Linked DNA regions of Homo sapiens. The protein of the gene in region 1 purifies or fractionates together with the protein of each later gene. This does not show direct contact. Each region holds a gene or a part of one and is shown on either strand. Other genes may lie near its edges.

Evidence for each region. The genes of interacting proteins can lie anywhere in the genome.
Region 2: the proteins of CEP83 (region 1) and CKAP5 purify together in Homo sapiens (affinity purification with mass spectrometry; 2 studies listed by BioGRID and IntAct, with this or other methods). This does not show direct contact.

The regions. Positions count from the first base shown.
Region 1 is NC_000012.12:94,372,235-94,380,309, forward strand, and holds part of CEP83 (centrosomal protein of 83 kDa), read right to left. Parts: intron 6,809-8,075; coding exon 6,557-6,808; intron 3,784-6,556; coding exon 3,652-3,783; intron 1-3,651. UniProt on the Homo sapiens protein: Component of the distal appendage region of the centriole involved in the initiation of primary cilium assembly.
Region 2 is NC_000011.10:46,835,973-46,844,047, forward strand, and holds part of CKAP5 (cytoskeleton-associated protein 5), read right to left. Parts: intron 1-8,075. UniProt on the Homo sapiens protein: Binds to the plus end of microtubules and regulates microtubule dynamics and microtubule organization. Acts as a processive microtubule polymerase. Promotes cytoplasmic microtubule nucleation and elongation. Plays a major role in organizing spindle poles.

The sequences.
Region 1 (8,075 bases):
GTGCTGGGATTACAGGCGTTAAGCCACCACACCTGGCCTGTGGTTTTAATTTCCTTTTGGAAGTTATTTTCTATAAAAGCAAGTTTTATAAAATGATGTTTACATGACAACAGCTGATAATTTGTTTTAATACTTAAACTTTCTGTAGATTGGATTTTACTACATTATAATTTCATGGACAGATAGAATTTAAATTATAAATACTTTAAAATTTTGAAGAAATATGATTACAAAGAAAATCCAATCACTATGACAAATGTAATTATAACCTGCTATTATATACTAACTGTAAAAGGTTAAGAATGACACAGCATTTCATTAACAAACATACTATAGCTGCATGAGGTGGAAAATTAGAGCCATCTTATTTCATAGGAAGTTGATTCATCTCATGGTAAAAGATCTACAAAAACTTATTTCTTATTCATTTCACCCTGAAATTTACTGAAATGAGACGACATTTTTAACTAAACTACAATTATTGAAACTGAAAGAACACCGAATAGGAAGTCAAGCAACAAGTGAGGTCTGTCTTCAGGCCTACTTTTGCTGTTAAACCAGTGGTATATGCTCAAGCAATTTACCTGTCCTCTCTGCATTCAAATGTACTCATTTATGGATCTAAAGTTTTTCTTTATTGCCTTATTTCTATTATCCTAACATCACTGATGCATCACTTATATGAACACTGTTAATTTCCTAAAAATATACTAAAAGGAATTTTACTTAACGTATGAAAATGTATTACCCAGTAATGACAAATAATAGCACTTTTCTATGAGTAATCTGAACCAAATTCCAAATGTTACAGTAAAGTTTCTTTCTGCCCCTAGATCCTTGGTTCTTAATCTTCTTTGTGATCAAGTCCCAAATCCTAGGAAAATTAGGGATTTTTTTTTTAAATAAAATGCTCATGTTAAAATGTTGCATAAAATTTCAAGCAATTCATGGTCTCCTAAAGCTCCACTGGACCAAGTCACCCTGTTCTTCACAGAATGTTTGCCATATAGATTCTGGCCTTTATGTTGTGAATTTGCTTTATGTTTTGACACAATGGAAGTATTCAGATATTACTAACAAAACTTTAATAAATGTCAAAACTGGCAAAACTGGGCATTTTACAGGGGGTCAGTATCTGTTAAAGTACACATACTCACAGAAAGACACACAAGAGCACAGCATAAATAAGCAAGAAATGGAAATATAATTGACAATATGTATTACCTAAGAAGCTCTGGATACAGATTCCAAAGAGATGGTACTTAAATCTTGATCTTTTTCAAAGTTCTGAGATGTAATTACCCAATTAATTTAGGTAAATAAGGACAACTCTGTTGGGTGGCTTTCTTAAAACTACCTTTTATTGGCATTCTGAAAATGAAAAACCTTATGAGGGAACTAGAAGAATTTACCTCACTGAATGTGAAATCTCTTTAAGGTCATCATTTTCAGGCCATCTTTGGTAATACCTTTTAATCCAAGACACTGATACTCACACTGACATAACTTTGTTCTAAAATCTGACAAACATTTATGAATTTGAGTAACTAAGACAAACACACCCCAGGTGTTCCTTTGCACTGCAAACAACCATTTGCTAGAATTGCAAAATGTTGATGAAAACTTCAAGTTGCAAAGAAAACTGTGGCAGTCATGTTTGAAATATTATTTTAAAATCTACCCTTCCAATGGAATCTTTACATACAAGACTTCAAATGAAACTTGGTTTGTTTAAAGTTGAAGGATGGTATTTAATACTCCATTTATATGCAAAATAAGGCAAGTGTGCCTTTAAAAAGACAGGCAACTCTTAGCAATGTGTATTAATAAACAAGCACAGAGAAATAAATACTATACTAGATTGCTGTTCTTTCTTCAGCGGAGTAGGAGAAATCACCTAGGCTCTAACTCTAAGAGGAAAGAGCAATAGGGAAGAGTATATATATATGGAAAAAAAGAAGAAAAATCAGGGTCAGCACACAGGTGAGCTAGGGAGCTCAGGTAAAATGTACTGCATGAAAAGTATTATACTTGGTGGCCCCCCCAAGAGAGAAGCCACAGCAGAAGCCAGCACATCCCATGTCCTATTGCGACATCTGTGGTTCCAATTATTCCAGCAGTGTAGTCTGGCTACTCAGGTCAAGAACAATGTGCTGCAAATACTACGTACTCAATATTATTTCACAAAATTGAAAATAATTTATACTGGAATTGGAAGAAAAGCATGGAAACTCCCCATATCCTGAATTTACTTGTGTTTTGTATCTATTTTTTTGTATACTCTATAGTTATAAGCTTTCAATGTGTATCTGTTGAATATATAATCTACTTACAGTTAATCAGGAGGCAATCAAATTATTTCCTAGTAGTTCTTACACAGTCTTAGTAGGCTGGAAGGGTTCTTACAGATATAAGGAAATTGGATCCTAATGATATTAGGTAACTTGCCTTAGGTTACACATAGTTATTGAGACAGTGAGACACAGACTAGTCAATGGACTAAAAATTCTGTATTCTTTATGTTACAATATTTTCTTATTTAAGGATATCACCAGTGTATAATCACTGCTATTATCATTTTCATCATCAGCTACATTTAATTTTTGCCACAACTCTGTAATGTAGGTATTAGTCCCATTGCATAGACAAAGGCACTTAAGTTTCAGAGAGACAGTGAACTGCCCAAGGTCACACAGCTTTTTTTAGTAATGAAAAAATCAGAATTTGAATCCAGTCTGTTAAGGAGAATATAAATGTAGATCATGCTGCTACTACTAATTTATTCATTGAAGAAATATTTGAGTACCTACTATGTGCCGGCACCATTCTAGAAGCTGGAAAAGCAGTAGTGATGAAAACAATGTCCCTGCTCTCTTGGAGCTTACATTGGGTTGAGGGGAAGGTGGTGGGAAAGAAAAGGAGAGACCAAAAAATAAAAACCAAATAACTATATCAGATAGTATTAAGAGCTATGAAGCAGGTAAGGAAGACAGAGAGAAAGACAGAGGAAGAAGGAAGATGCTGTTTTACAATGTGAAGACAAGGAAAGCCTCCCTGGTTAGGCAACATCTAGGTGGTGAAGAAGCAAGTTATGTGGATACGTGAGGGAAGACTGAGCCAAACTCAGACAAGTGCAGAAACCCTGAGCAAGATGTGAGTTTGCTCAAAGAGTGAGAAGGCCAAAGGGAGCAAAGTGAACAGGAGGAAAAATACAGGTCATGGCTGTGAAAAGACTGCAGGATCCAGATCATACAGAGCTCTGAATGGGTAGAAAGCAGAAAGACCAGTTAGCAACCTAGCACAGAAATGGAGCCTAGAAAAATCATGGCTTGGACTGGAATAGTCACAGTGGATGTCATAAGAATTGATCAGATTCTGCATGTATTTGGAAGGTAGAATGATAAAGGATTAAAAATATTTCAATACAGAGAACTAAACACAAAATTTGTCACTGTACAGTATCAAGCATTCTAAAGAATGAAATAGAGGCATAAGATAACATACTCTACTGATCAATGTATTTATTTCTTAGAAGGCAGAATGATATAATAAAACATTTCAGTATAAAGAAATCAATTATTAAAAATAAAATTTATCATTATATACTAACAAACATTCTAAAGAATGAAACAGAAACATAAAACAACTTACTTTACTGGACAATGTATTTATTTCTCGTTCAGCTTTATGCAATTTATTAATTAAAAAGGTATTTTGTTCACTGCTTGATTGTAGCTCTTTTTCCAAACGTTCTGCCCGTAAATTAGCTGATTGTTTTTCAGCCTTTCATACAAACAAAATAGTTTAAAATTCATCATTTTTCAAGTATTTCAAAATCAAATAAGCACTATTTAAAATACATTTATAATTATACTAAAATTATTCAAAACCTCAACTTAACATATACCAATGTAACAAAAATTTTCTCAAACTAATTGGCAGAATTCAAACGAAAGATAGTGTTCCAGGAAATATGCAACAAAGGCATCTAGACAAACAACATATGAATGACCATCAATAAAATAAAGTTTATACACTTCTCTCACGACAGAAAGTACCTAAGGCATTCATTTGATGTCTATTTACTCTTAACACTGACTTATTTCAAACATTTTGGAAGTTTCCAGTCTATAACAGATAAGAAAAAGCATATTAGAAACTAGAAGACAGGGCTCATTGATAGTAACAAGTAAAAATTGAAAATCTAAAATCAATGATTTTAAAAAAAGAAACAGGGAAAGATATGATTTCAAAATCCTCAGCTCATCTGCAGACTTTTTAAGTACGAGCAAAGAGGCTCTTGATCTCATGACACAATTAAGATTGTTAATGAAGTCTGCAGGTTGTCAAAAAAGTTTCTGGATGGTAATATCGATAGTACTCTTTCATGAGGGGAGGGAAACTAAAATCTTTTTTGAAAAAACATGTCTATTCAACATAATATATATACATATATACACACACACACACACACACACACACACACACACACACACACATATATATATATATATTTTTTTTTTGAGACAAGGTCTTGCTCTGTCTCCCAGGCTGCAGTGCAATGGCACGATCTTGGCTCACCACAACCTCCGCCTCCCAAGCTCAAACAATTCTCCTGCCTCAGCCTCCCGAGTAGCTAGGACTTCAGGTGCACACCATGGCACCTGGCTAATTTTTGTACTTTTTGTAGAGACAGGGTTTCACCCGTGTTGTTCAGGCTCATCTCAAACTCCTGAGCTCAGGTGATCCAGCTACCTCAGCCTCCCAAACTGCTGGGATTACAGGCATAAGCGACCACACCTGACCTCAACATAATTAAAATGAAGACATTTTGGCATTTAAAGGATAAATTTCAGTTTTATAACATCTCATTTCGTACATATAGATGCTGTTCGACTTATGATGGGGTTACATCCTGATAAACCCATCACAAATTGAAAATACCTAAGTCCATAACTTAGACTAGCCTAACTTAAGCATCCTCAACACACGTGCATTAGCCTACAGTTGGAAAAAATCATTTGGCGACACAGTACTCTGTAAAGAGGTTATTTACCCTCATGACCACATGACTGACTGGGAACTGTGGCTCAGTGCAGCTACCCAGCATTAAGAGTATCACACCACATATCAGTAACCCAGGAAAAGATCAAAATTCAAAGTACATAAATGCATATATGGCTTTCACACCATCGGACAGTCAAAAAATAGTAAGTCAAACCACCTTAAGTTGGGGAACATCTAGCTTAAATGTGGTAAGGACTATATTCGACAAACAATTAGGGAAAAAAACTATTTTCTTCATATATGAAATAATACTCTCTGGGCACAATGATAGCCAAGAAAGTTAAAGAAGAAAGAAATGCTTGCTGTCATACGCTTATTTTCATTTCATCTGACAAATAATAAAATTAAATATAGGCTCTTCTGAAAATGTCACAAATAAATCTTCTGTCATCATTCAACTTGCCCTGAAAATAATCACTCTAAAGGACCTCAATGGAAAGTTTCACATCAGGACTGTATGCTATATTCAACTGCAATCATCTCACTTATTCTGTCACTGTGTAAAATACATTAAGGATGGAAGGATGGCAACATAAATAGTCTCACAATGAACTGCTTCATGTTTAAGGTACAATGATACTGACAACTTTTAATTCAGAAAACCAGTAAATACTGACAGAGCGTCATGTAACAAAATAAAAAGTAACTTCTACTCTTCAAAACATACCATTGTACTCCTGTACCACTGGCTGGGGAAAAAAAAAATCACCATCTTGGATTTGGATATTGATTTTAACTACAAATTAAATGCCCGCTAATGTCCCCCCCACCCAAATCATTTTATAACTATTCCAAAGGAAAAAGAAACACTTTGAACTATACAAAATAAATAAAAACAATTAAACAGGTATGTTTGCTACAAGTTAGGCACTAAGAACTAAGAAGAATAAGTGTATCTGAATAAAATGGAAACCAAGAATTTTCATAAGGCAATACCCGTAGGAGTACCAGTCAGGTCTGCCAACACTTATCTTTCTCTAATGAACCCAGGGAAATAATTCTGTAAAGGCATGTATACCTTTACAGTTGGATTTTACTACTCTGGCAAGAAGCTGTCGTAAGATACATCAGTATGGTATTTCTGTTCAAACAGGATTTGTGACTTTAAGACCTCAAATCCCAGTGTAAGGAATGTACTATCTTGAAAGAAATTATTCTTTCTGGTTTGAGATGACTTTACGCTCAGAAACTCAAATACATATATTTTTATTTTGCATATTCTATTATGTGGCATTTTAAGAGTTAAGACATTTCAGATAGGTGACTTGACTCCCAAAGAATAAATACCCCTTTGTAAATGTGGTAGCATACGTATTGCTTATGAATCAATAGCTTTCTTCTTTACTAAAAGAATAAATACTCTTGGGATTACACAAATGCATCAGCATTAGCTTGGGGGGCATACATTTATGCTCTAAAAATCAAAGGCTTGTCAACTGCACTTTAAAAAAGTATGCCATACTCTACTGGGAAGTAATTAGAATCTTACCTCCAGGGATCTGACTGTAGCCTGCATCTCAGCCAACTGCCGCACCTGTATTCTTTGGGCATTTTCCACCTGAGCCTCAGAATTCTCCTTTTCAGCCTTTAATTCCGCTACTTCAGCCTCTAAACCTTTTAATTTTTGACACAAATAGACTTTTTCTCGAGCAAGTTGTTCCACTCGTTTGCTGTCTTTTGTGAGATCAACATTAAGCAGCTGGTTACGTAGTTCTTCTTTATCTTCCTCCAGTCTTGCAATCTAATAATAATTTTAAAGAAAGCATACAAGGTTAAATTATTAAATTTTCAGTCATGAACATGCTTTACAAGTCAGTAAAATTAAAAAATGCACAAAATCAAAGCTCAGGTGCTGAAACAAAGTACAAAGGAAAAAATTTTAAGTATCACTATCTTTTTGTTCTTAGTGGGACTCAAATGTGAGGTCAAGGACTGTGTCCTGTTTTCCCTGTATCTCCACGTGGTGTCTAGAACAGGGCTTAATCAGTTGCTGACTAAAATTTAAAATTATAATACTGTAAGTACTAAACATACATCAAGTATTTTAAAATTCATCATAACATTATAGGGGTTCATGACCAAAACTCTGACTACTCCAAAGCTTTTCCTCACATGACTGTAATTCTTGAGCTAGTCTATACTAATAAAATTATCTATGTCAGGGCAACTTAATTCACACAAAAACTGCCTGTCTGTGTACATAAAAGCAAATGTGATTGATGAGAGTTTTTAAATGATAGCTGAGAGTTTATTAAAGTCCTAATTGTAATGATGGCCTAGTTCTTAGTTCTTAGATTCAAGAAGAATTGAAAAATCATTACTCCAGGGCAGGTGTTAAAGTCACTGGGGAACTTGCAGAGCAGAGACACCAGTGGTCTTGTCATTCATGCCAATTATCACTGCTGGACTTCGTGGGCCTCCAAATCAGTGGGTTTCAAACTGTTTCCTAACCTCTGAGGCATTTCAGAAGCTCCTCACCTCTGGAGACCAGGGGCAAGCAATCAGGGTCTAGAACTCATTCTTTCCCTTTCCTGATCTCCCCAACTATCTATCCCCTACCACCACCCCCACCAAATTTCTGGCATTAACCATACGCTTCTATTTTTAGTCTCTTTCTGGGGTTTCTTCAAATGATTCAACTTAAGTAAATGATTCAGCTGGGTTTTTTGTTTGTTAAGAAGAAGTTGAAAACCACTGCTCAAAACAGGACAAGAGGTTGTTTGTAGCCAGGATGAACATCAAAGACTCACTGTAAGCTCCCCGGCCCTGCAAAAAAAAAAAAAAAAAAACAAAAAACAAAAACAGAAAAAACTAAAGAAATGCTCCAAAACCTTAGGCAAAAGTGGTCCAAGAAACAACTGTTTGATCACAGCACTATCAATGAATCTAAAAAGTTTAAGACCTCCACCCCAGGGCAGGATCTGTTCTCCACACCTGTAAAATGGGAAACTGAATTACATGCACTCTAACAACCTTTTTAGTTTTAACACATAGTGATTCCAGTTTGT
Region 2 (8,075 bases), on another chromosome or scaffold:
CGTAATTCTTGACTAATCATGAGAAAAATATCAGACAAAGACAAAGAGAAGGGCAGTCTACAAAACAACTGACTAGTACTCCTCAAAATGGTCATGGTCATGAAAACAAGGAAGGACTGAGAAATTGCCAAAGACCAGAGAAGGCTAATAGAGATGACCACGAAGTGCAATATGTTACCCTGAATTGGATCCTGAAACAGAATGGGCACATGAATAGAAAAACTGTTGAAACACAAACAGAATCTGGAGTTTGTTTAAACGATGTTAATAACAGGGCACACTGGGTGAGAGGTATGCAGGAATCCTACACATCATCTTTGCAACTTTTCTGTTGGAACAATCTATAATTATTCCAAAATAAAGTTAATTTTTAAAAAGTTTCCTCTTAAAAAACTAACATTTATTTTCAAAAAAGGTAATGTCGTGAAAACGAATAATTTTAAAAAGTGAGAACACTAGGTCAGGCACAGTGGCTCAAACCTATAATCCTAGCATTTCAGGAGGCTGAGATGGGAGGATTGCTTGAGGCCAGGAGTTTGAGACCAGCCTGGTCAACACAGTGAGACCCCATCTCTTTAAAATAATAATAATAATAAAGTGGGGACACTACATACCTACCAGAAGGGCTAAAATCCAAAAACCAGATAGAACTAAGTGCTGTTAAGAACGTGGAGCAAGAGGAACTCTCATTCATTGCTAATAGGAATGCAAAATGGTACAGCCACTCTGGAATAGAGTTTGGCAGTTTCTTACAAAACTATAACTAGTCTTACCATATGATCCAGCAACCTGCTTCTAGGTATTTATCCAACTGAATTAAAAATTTATGTCAGCTGGGCACAGTGGGTTGTACTGTTAATCCCAGCACTTTTGGGAGGCCAAGGCAGGAGTTCGAGACTTTTATGACATAAAGAGTGAACTTTAATGTATGCAAATTTTAAAAAGTCATTTAGGAGACTGGGAGATTGCAGAAAAGAATGAAGACTATGACAAGGGAATCTATATTACAGATGTGTGAAACAACTTCACCAAAGGGGGTGGGAAAAAGGTTCTGACCTAAGTAGCTTTGGTAATGAGTGGAGTCTGAAAGATTAAGGGCAAAAGGAACTGCACAGAAGTATGTACTCTAGTTGATAAAGTTTTTTTCATGGAGTATGGGTTAGCAATTCTGATACTGCTATCCATGTATGTATATCCATATATAATGGAACTGGACAATTAAATAAATGGATGGTGGAAATTAGGTTTTTCACTATTGTGAATGGAAATTCAAAGATCAGCAAGGGGAGGAGGCTAGAATGATCTATGTGATAATGGATCAGAATTGGAGACACCAGTAGGAACTCATGTTTTTCCCCCCCGCCCATACTACTGAAAGTGATCTATGGAACTCGTTTAACTTAATATAGACACAGATGGCTACATAGAGAAATATTTATAGATATGTCTATATACATGGGGTTAGCATACATTCATATATTTCTTTGCTCTAACAGTTGAAAGGACCTAAAAGAAATGACACCCCAGTAGCAAAGAGAACACTCAGTACCCAGGTCTTGTTTCTAATAGCATTCTCCAATAAGGGAACCAGGGCACCTTGGGGAAATGGCTGATTCTAGCACTGGGACAAGAAATACACAAGATGAGCCTGGAACATTTCCAGATAGTAAGGAAGTACTCAAAGATCAATACAAATACGCGCACACACACACACATGTATGTTAAAGGAATACAGGAAGCTCCCAAAGGACAAAGCTGGAACAACCTGAACAACAAAATAATGTAATATTGGAGTGTAACCTAAAATATAAAATAAATATACTTGAGTCCACACTATTATCAGTAAATACTTGACTAAACTAATAAATGGGAAAGGAGAGACAAGAATTTCAAATAAATTAAGTAGGTACTCCACCCTAAGATCAAGGAACTCCCCATTCCTTAAGTGTGGGCTGCAAACAGTGACTTCCCTTCAAAGAATACAGTATAGAAAAGGAGGGGAAAAAAAAGTAAATTCACTGTAGAAACCTCACAAACACTATTTCAGGTCAATATGAACAGTCAAGGTCAATATTAAGTCATAAATCATGTTGATAGCATGTACCCTTGATATGATGTGATGAAAATGGCACTTTACCTCTGTGGTCTTCCTGCCCAAAACCTGTAACTCCAGTCTAATGAGAAAAACATCAGACAAATTCCAATAGAAGGACATCTTACAATGTATTTGACTAGTACCTCTCAAAACAGATTAAAATTTTTTTAAAAAATTCAGATGTATAATTTTTCTAGCTTTCTTAAAGACTTTCTGAACTAGTCTAAAATAATTTTAAGACTAATTGAGACTGTTAAGATACTGCTTACACCCAAAAACACAGGAACAAGCCTGGTGCAGTGGCTCACACCAGTAATCCCAGCACTTTGGATGCTGGAGCGAGAGGATTGTTTGAGGCCAGGAGTTCAAGACCAGCTTAGGCAACATACTGAGACTGTGTCTCCACAAAAAGAAAAAAATGACAGCCAGACACGGTGGCTCACGCCTGTAATCCTAGCACTTTAGCACTTTGGGAGGCCGAGGCAGGCAGATCACTTGAGTCCAAGAGTTCAAGACCATCCTGGGCAACATAGTAATACCTTGCCTCTTCAAAAAAAAAAAAAAAAAAAAAAAAAAAAATTAGCCGGGTGTGGTGGCACTCGCCTGTAGTCCCAGCCACTAGAGGCTGAGGTGAGAGGATCCCTTGAGCCCGGGAGGTGAAGGTTGCAGTAAGCAGAGATCAGGCCAACACACTCCAGCCTAGGAGACAGAGTGGGACCCCATCTCAAAAAAAAAAAAAAAAAAAAAAAAAAATTGCTGAGCCACCATTGTCGCAACATTTTTAGAATATAAAAATAAAAAAAAATAAATAAAGACACAGAAACACAGCCAACTGAATAGTCAGATACTGTTTTTATCACTTTTTTGTTCAGAGAAGATGATGCCAGTTTTGGCCAATTTTGTTCAACAAATATTTTTGACCACCTAGTTTGTTGCAGGCATTGTTGAGTCACTGAGGTAACCTCAAAGGAAAAAAAAAATCTATGTTCTGCTTTCATTTTTATGAGAAAATCTAACAATATATAGACAAACAATAAACAATTACATAACAATATATGCTATGAAGTAAATAAGGAAAAGTGAAGTAAAAGTGACCAAGAGGGCTCCTCTAATTCAGAGCTCAGAAAAGTGTCTCTTTAAGGAGATGACATTTAAGTTGAAGCCTGAGAGTGCCAGTAATACAGGCTGGGGGTAGGGGTAGAGTGAAGTGAGAAGTTCCAGAACAGAATGCAAAGACCGAAAAGAATAAGCGTAATGTGTTGGAGTTATACACATCAAGTAGGTAGAGTAACTGCCCTGATAGAAATGAGCTAAGTAATGTATTCTAAACTCCAGAGGCAAGAATAGGAAAATCATTTAAAAACCTTAAAACTCTCCAACATTGACTACCAAGAATCCTAATTAGATTAAGAACTCAATTTTTATGCGTCCCTTTAGCTACCCACCGCCACCACTGTCACAGTTGTCCATCTTCCATATGGTAAATGCCATCTTTCCTCTAAAAACTATCATGCCTGTCATTCATATTTCATCACATCTCCGATAGAAGTACTTTTTTAAAAGGGGCTGGGGGAATTCTACCCAGAAATTGCTCCTGAATTCTCCTACAGATCCCTACTTCACGTAGTACAATCATAGGTTAAGAGCAAAGGCCCTGGAGACAGACTGACTTGGGTTTGAATTCAGATTCTATCACTTAGTTCTATGATTTTGAGCATGTTGCACAGCCTTTTAAAGACTCAGTTTCCTCATCTGTAAAACATTGTGAGGATAAAAAAAGATAAAATGTAGCGGGACATGTTGGCTCATGCTTGTAACCCCAGCAATTTGGGAGGGTAAGGAGGGCAGATTGCTTAAGCCCAGGAGTTTGAGACCAGCCTGAGTAACATGGCAAAACCCCATCTCTACAAAAAATACAAAAATTAGCATGTGCCTGTAGGCCCACCTACTTGGGAGGCTGAGGTGGGAGGACAGATTGAGCCCAGGAGGTTGAGTCTACAGTGAGCCATGATCACACCACTACACTCCAGCCTGGGCGACAGAGTGAGATCCTGTCTCAAAAAAATTAATTAATTAATTAATTAAACAAAATGTGGGACCCAGTAGGCATTCAATACATGTTAGCTACTGCTAGTAAAAGTATCTGGGCATGTATTTTATTCAAGGACCAGAGCTGACCCCAGAGGGATTACAGAAACTATAATTTGCTACAGTAAATTGTTTGACAGATAAAACTGTCAAACTCCCTTAGGTCAGGGCCTTTGTCTTTTTCTGGTTCACCAGTGTATTCCCTGAATCTAGAACAATGTGTGACAGACATTAAGCATCAATCTCAATATCTGTTCAATGAATGAATAAGACCCCATTAAAGGAGCATAAGAGAGCCTGGCTTTACCTTAACATACTCATTCCCTGTCAAAATTTTTAACACTTATCCTAAGGCACTGTTAAAGTTGTTTATTATTTTTAATTGCTTACCAAAAACCTAGAACAGTGTTCATAATATTAAGGTACTCAAATTTATTGCAATTAAAACTTTGCTGCTGGAGAAGCTGAGAGCTGAACACATGGTGGTCCCTGGAGCGTGGTGTGCCCAGAGAGGGCATGGAAGCTCCATGCCTCTTCCCCTATACCTCACCCTATATAGCTCTTTGTATCCTTTGCAATATCCTTTATAATAAACTGGCTGGAAAATGTGTTTTCCTGAGTTCTATGAACAGGTCTAGCAAATTAATCAAACCCAAGGCAGGGAATGGGGGGCGGTATTAGGAATGCCCATTTTTATAGTCAGCCTACAGAAGCACAGGTAAAAAAAAACCTGGGGCTTCAGATTGGCATCTGAGTTGGGGGCAGTCTTCTGGGACTAAACCCTCAACCTGTGGGATCTGACACTACCTCCAGATAGAAAGTGTCAGAATTGGCCAGGTGAGGTGGCTCATGCCTGTAATCCCAGCACTTTGGGAGGCTGAGGCGGGCGGATCACTTGAGGCCAGGAGTTCAAGACCAGCCTGGCCAAAATGGAGAAACCCCGTCTCTACTAAAAATACAAAAAATTAGATGGGTGTTGTGGTGGGTTCTTGTAATCCCAGCTACTCGGGAGGCTGAGGAAGGAGAATCTCTTGAACCCGGGAGACAGAGGTTGCAGTCAGCCAAGACTGCGCCACCGCACTCCAGCCTGGGCAACAGAGCAATTCTGTCTCAAAAAAAAAAAAAAAGGTGTCAGAATTGAACTGAATTAGAGGACACACAGCTAGTGTCCACTGCTGAAGAACTACTTGCTTGGTGTGTGGGGAAAAAAATCTCACACATCTGAGGTCACAGAAGTTTTCTGTATTGTGAGAGTATAAGATAAACTTATTAAAGTTTCTTATTCTATATTCTCAGAATTGGCGTCAGAATTGGGATTTGCTAGAATGACTTGGCTCACAGACACATATGGTTTGGGAAGAAAAAGGATAAAAGGATAGGGATAAAGAACTTTGATTCTTAGGTGGCCAAGTGGTCACCCATGGTAAAGAGCTGAAGCTGTGCTGTCATCAATTACTAAAGGTAAAAGTTATCCATGGAATCCAGAGATGGATCCAACTGCCTGGGAGTTGGTTCACAGGATGCACAAGGAAATGCAAACTAGTATTAAAAAAGTGATATGCTGGCTCGGCACGGTGGCTCACGCCTGTAATCCCAGCACTTTGGGAGGCCAAGGCAGGAGGATCACGAGGTTAGGAGATTGAGACCATCTGGCTAACAGTGAAACTCCATCTCTACTAAAAATACAAAAAATTTAGGCGGGTGCTGTGGCTCACGCCTGTAATCCCAGCTACTCAGGAGGCTGAGGCAGGAGAATCACTTGAGCCTGGGAGGCAGAGGTTGCAGTGAGCCGAGATCGTGCCATTGCACTCCAGCCCTGGAGAAAGAGTAAGACTTTGGTTCAAAAAAAAAAAAAAAAAAAAAGCGAAATGTTAAATCCCTTGGTTATTGTTATCTGTAACAGCTAAAATGAAATTAAAAGAAAGTGGTGGGTTGGACCTTCCCGCTAGACCAAGCTCAGCTTTCAGTGAATGTGAGAGCTTAGGCCACTAACCTCAAAGCTGTCCCTCAAGGGAAAAATGTATGCCGGGACAACAGAAAGTGCTTCTAAGACCTCTGGTAACAAAGAAGGTGGTCTGCAAAAATCAAAGAACTATTGAAACCAGGGGGTACAATGTGAAGGAATTGTTTCACTTTGTACATTAGTATCATAAGCTTCCTGAAGGGGACAGTCTGATTCCATAAATGCCAAGTGGAACACCCCAGATCCAGATAGAGCCACTGATATACTTCATATGCAAGCCATGTGAAACTGGCTTTATGATGACTAGGACATTTACCCTCTGAATATGCCCACTACCCAGTCATGGTAAATGCTGTGGTTAAGGGTGACCCCTTAATGTGGATAACCTTACTGTTGCAAAATCAAAAGACAGTTCGAGAAGCCTTATCAAATGTGCTGTCTCAGTTTCCTCTCGTGGGTCTTACAGATGCTAATAAAACCATTAGGTTAAGAGAATGGTGAGACAGAGGGCAAATGGATTCAACCCGGAAGGTGGAAATTTTTAAATGGTTATTAAGAAGTAAGGTAGGCCGGGCGCGGTGGCTCACGCCTGTAATCCCAGCACTTTGGGAGGCCGAGGCGGGCGGATCACGAGGTCAGGAGATCGAGACCATCCTGGCTAACAAGGTGAAACCCCATCTCTACTGAAAATACAGAAAATTAGCCGGGCTTGGTAGCGGGCGCCTGTAGTCCCAGCTACTTGGGAGGCTGAGGCAGGAGAATGGCGTGAACCTGGGAGGCGGAGCTTGCAGTGAGCCGAGATCGCGCCACCGCACTCCAGCCTGGGTGACAGAGCAAGACTCCGTCTCAAAAAAAAAAAAAAAAAAAAAAAAAGAAGTAAGGTAGCAGGGTGTGGTGGCTCATGCCTATAATCCCAGCACTTTGGGAGGCCAAGACAGGATGATCACTTGAGCCCAGGAGTTCAAGACTAGCCTGGGAGCCAAAGGGAGACCCTGCTGGTCTCCCACCATTAAGGGGTTCCAAACAAGTTTGCTATATTTACCCCAGTTTGGAGAAATTGTAAGTCAGGAGGCAGATTACAATGAGAAATCTGATCTGAAATTGTGGAAACAATAGGTAGATGAGTCAAGATAAAGACTGGCAAATGGGCAAGGGTCTCTTGGCTCAACCACCTGCTGGGGACCCCAAGCCTTCTGTATATAAGTAGGTAAAATGGTCAGGGAGTGGCAAAAAGAAATTCCTGGGACTCCTTCATATGGAAGCCCCAGGTACAGTAGTACCAAGAGCCATTGGTGAAGCCCCGAACAGGGCTACAGTTAGATTAAGAGAAGGCCAGGCGTAGTGGTTCACGCCTGTAATCCCAGCATTTTGGGAGGCCGAGACAAAAGGATCCCTTGAGCCCAGGAGTTCGAGACCAGCCTGGGCAACAAGGCAAAACCCCATCGCTACAAAAACTAAAAAAATTTGCCAGGCATGGTGATGCACGTCTGTAGTCCCAGCTACCGGAAGGCTGAGATGGGAGGATCACCTGAGCCCTGGAGGTGGAGGCTGCAGTGACCCATAATAGCAGCACTGCACTCCAGCCAGGGCGAAAGAGTGAGATCTGATTGAAAAAAAAAAAAAAAAAAAATTGAGAGAACACAAAGATGTAAGTGTTGACAGAACTATGAAAGTTGGAAGCTGTGTCTCCTATATGTAAATGTGTTTTATTAGGAATGGATATTATGTCTGGCTGGGGAACACTTCCCCTACCTAGTATTGCAAAAACAAAACCTGTTGATAAAGTCCTAATAGAAGCTACAGTTAGAAAAGTGAGGGTTAGCCAGGTGTGGTGGCTCACACCTGTAATCCCAACACTTTGGGAAGCTGAGGCGGGTGGATCATTTGAGGTCAGGAGTTCGAGACCAGCCTGGCCAACATAGTGAAACC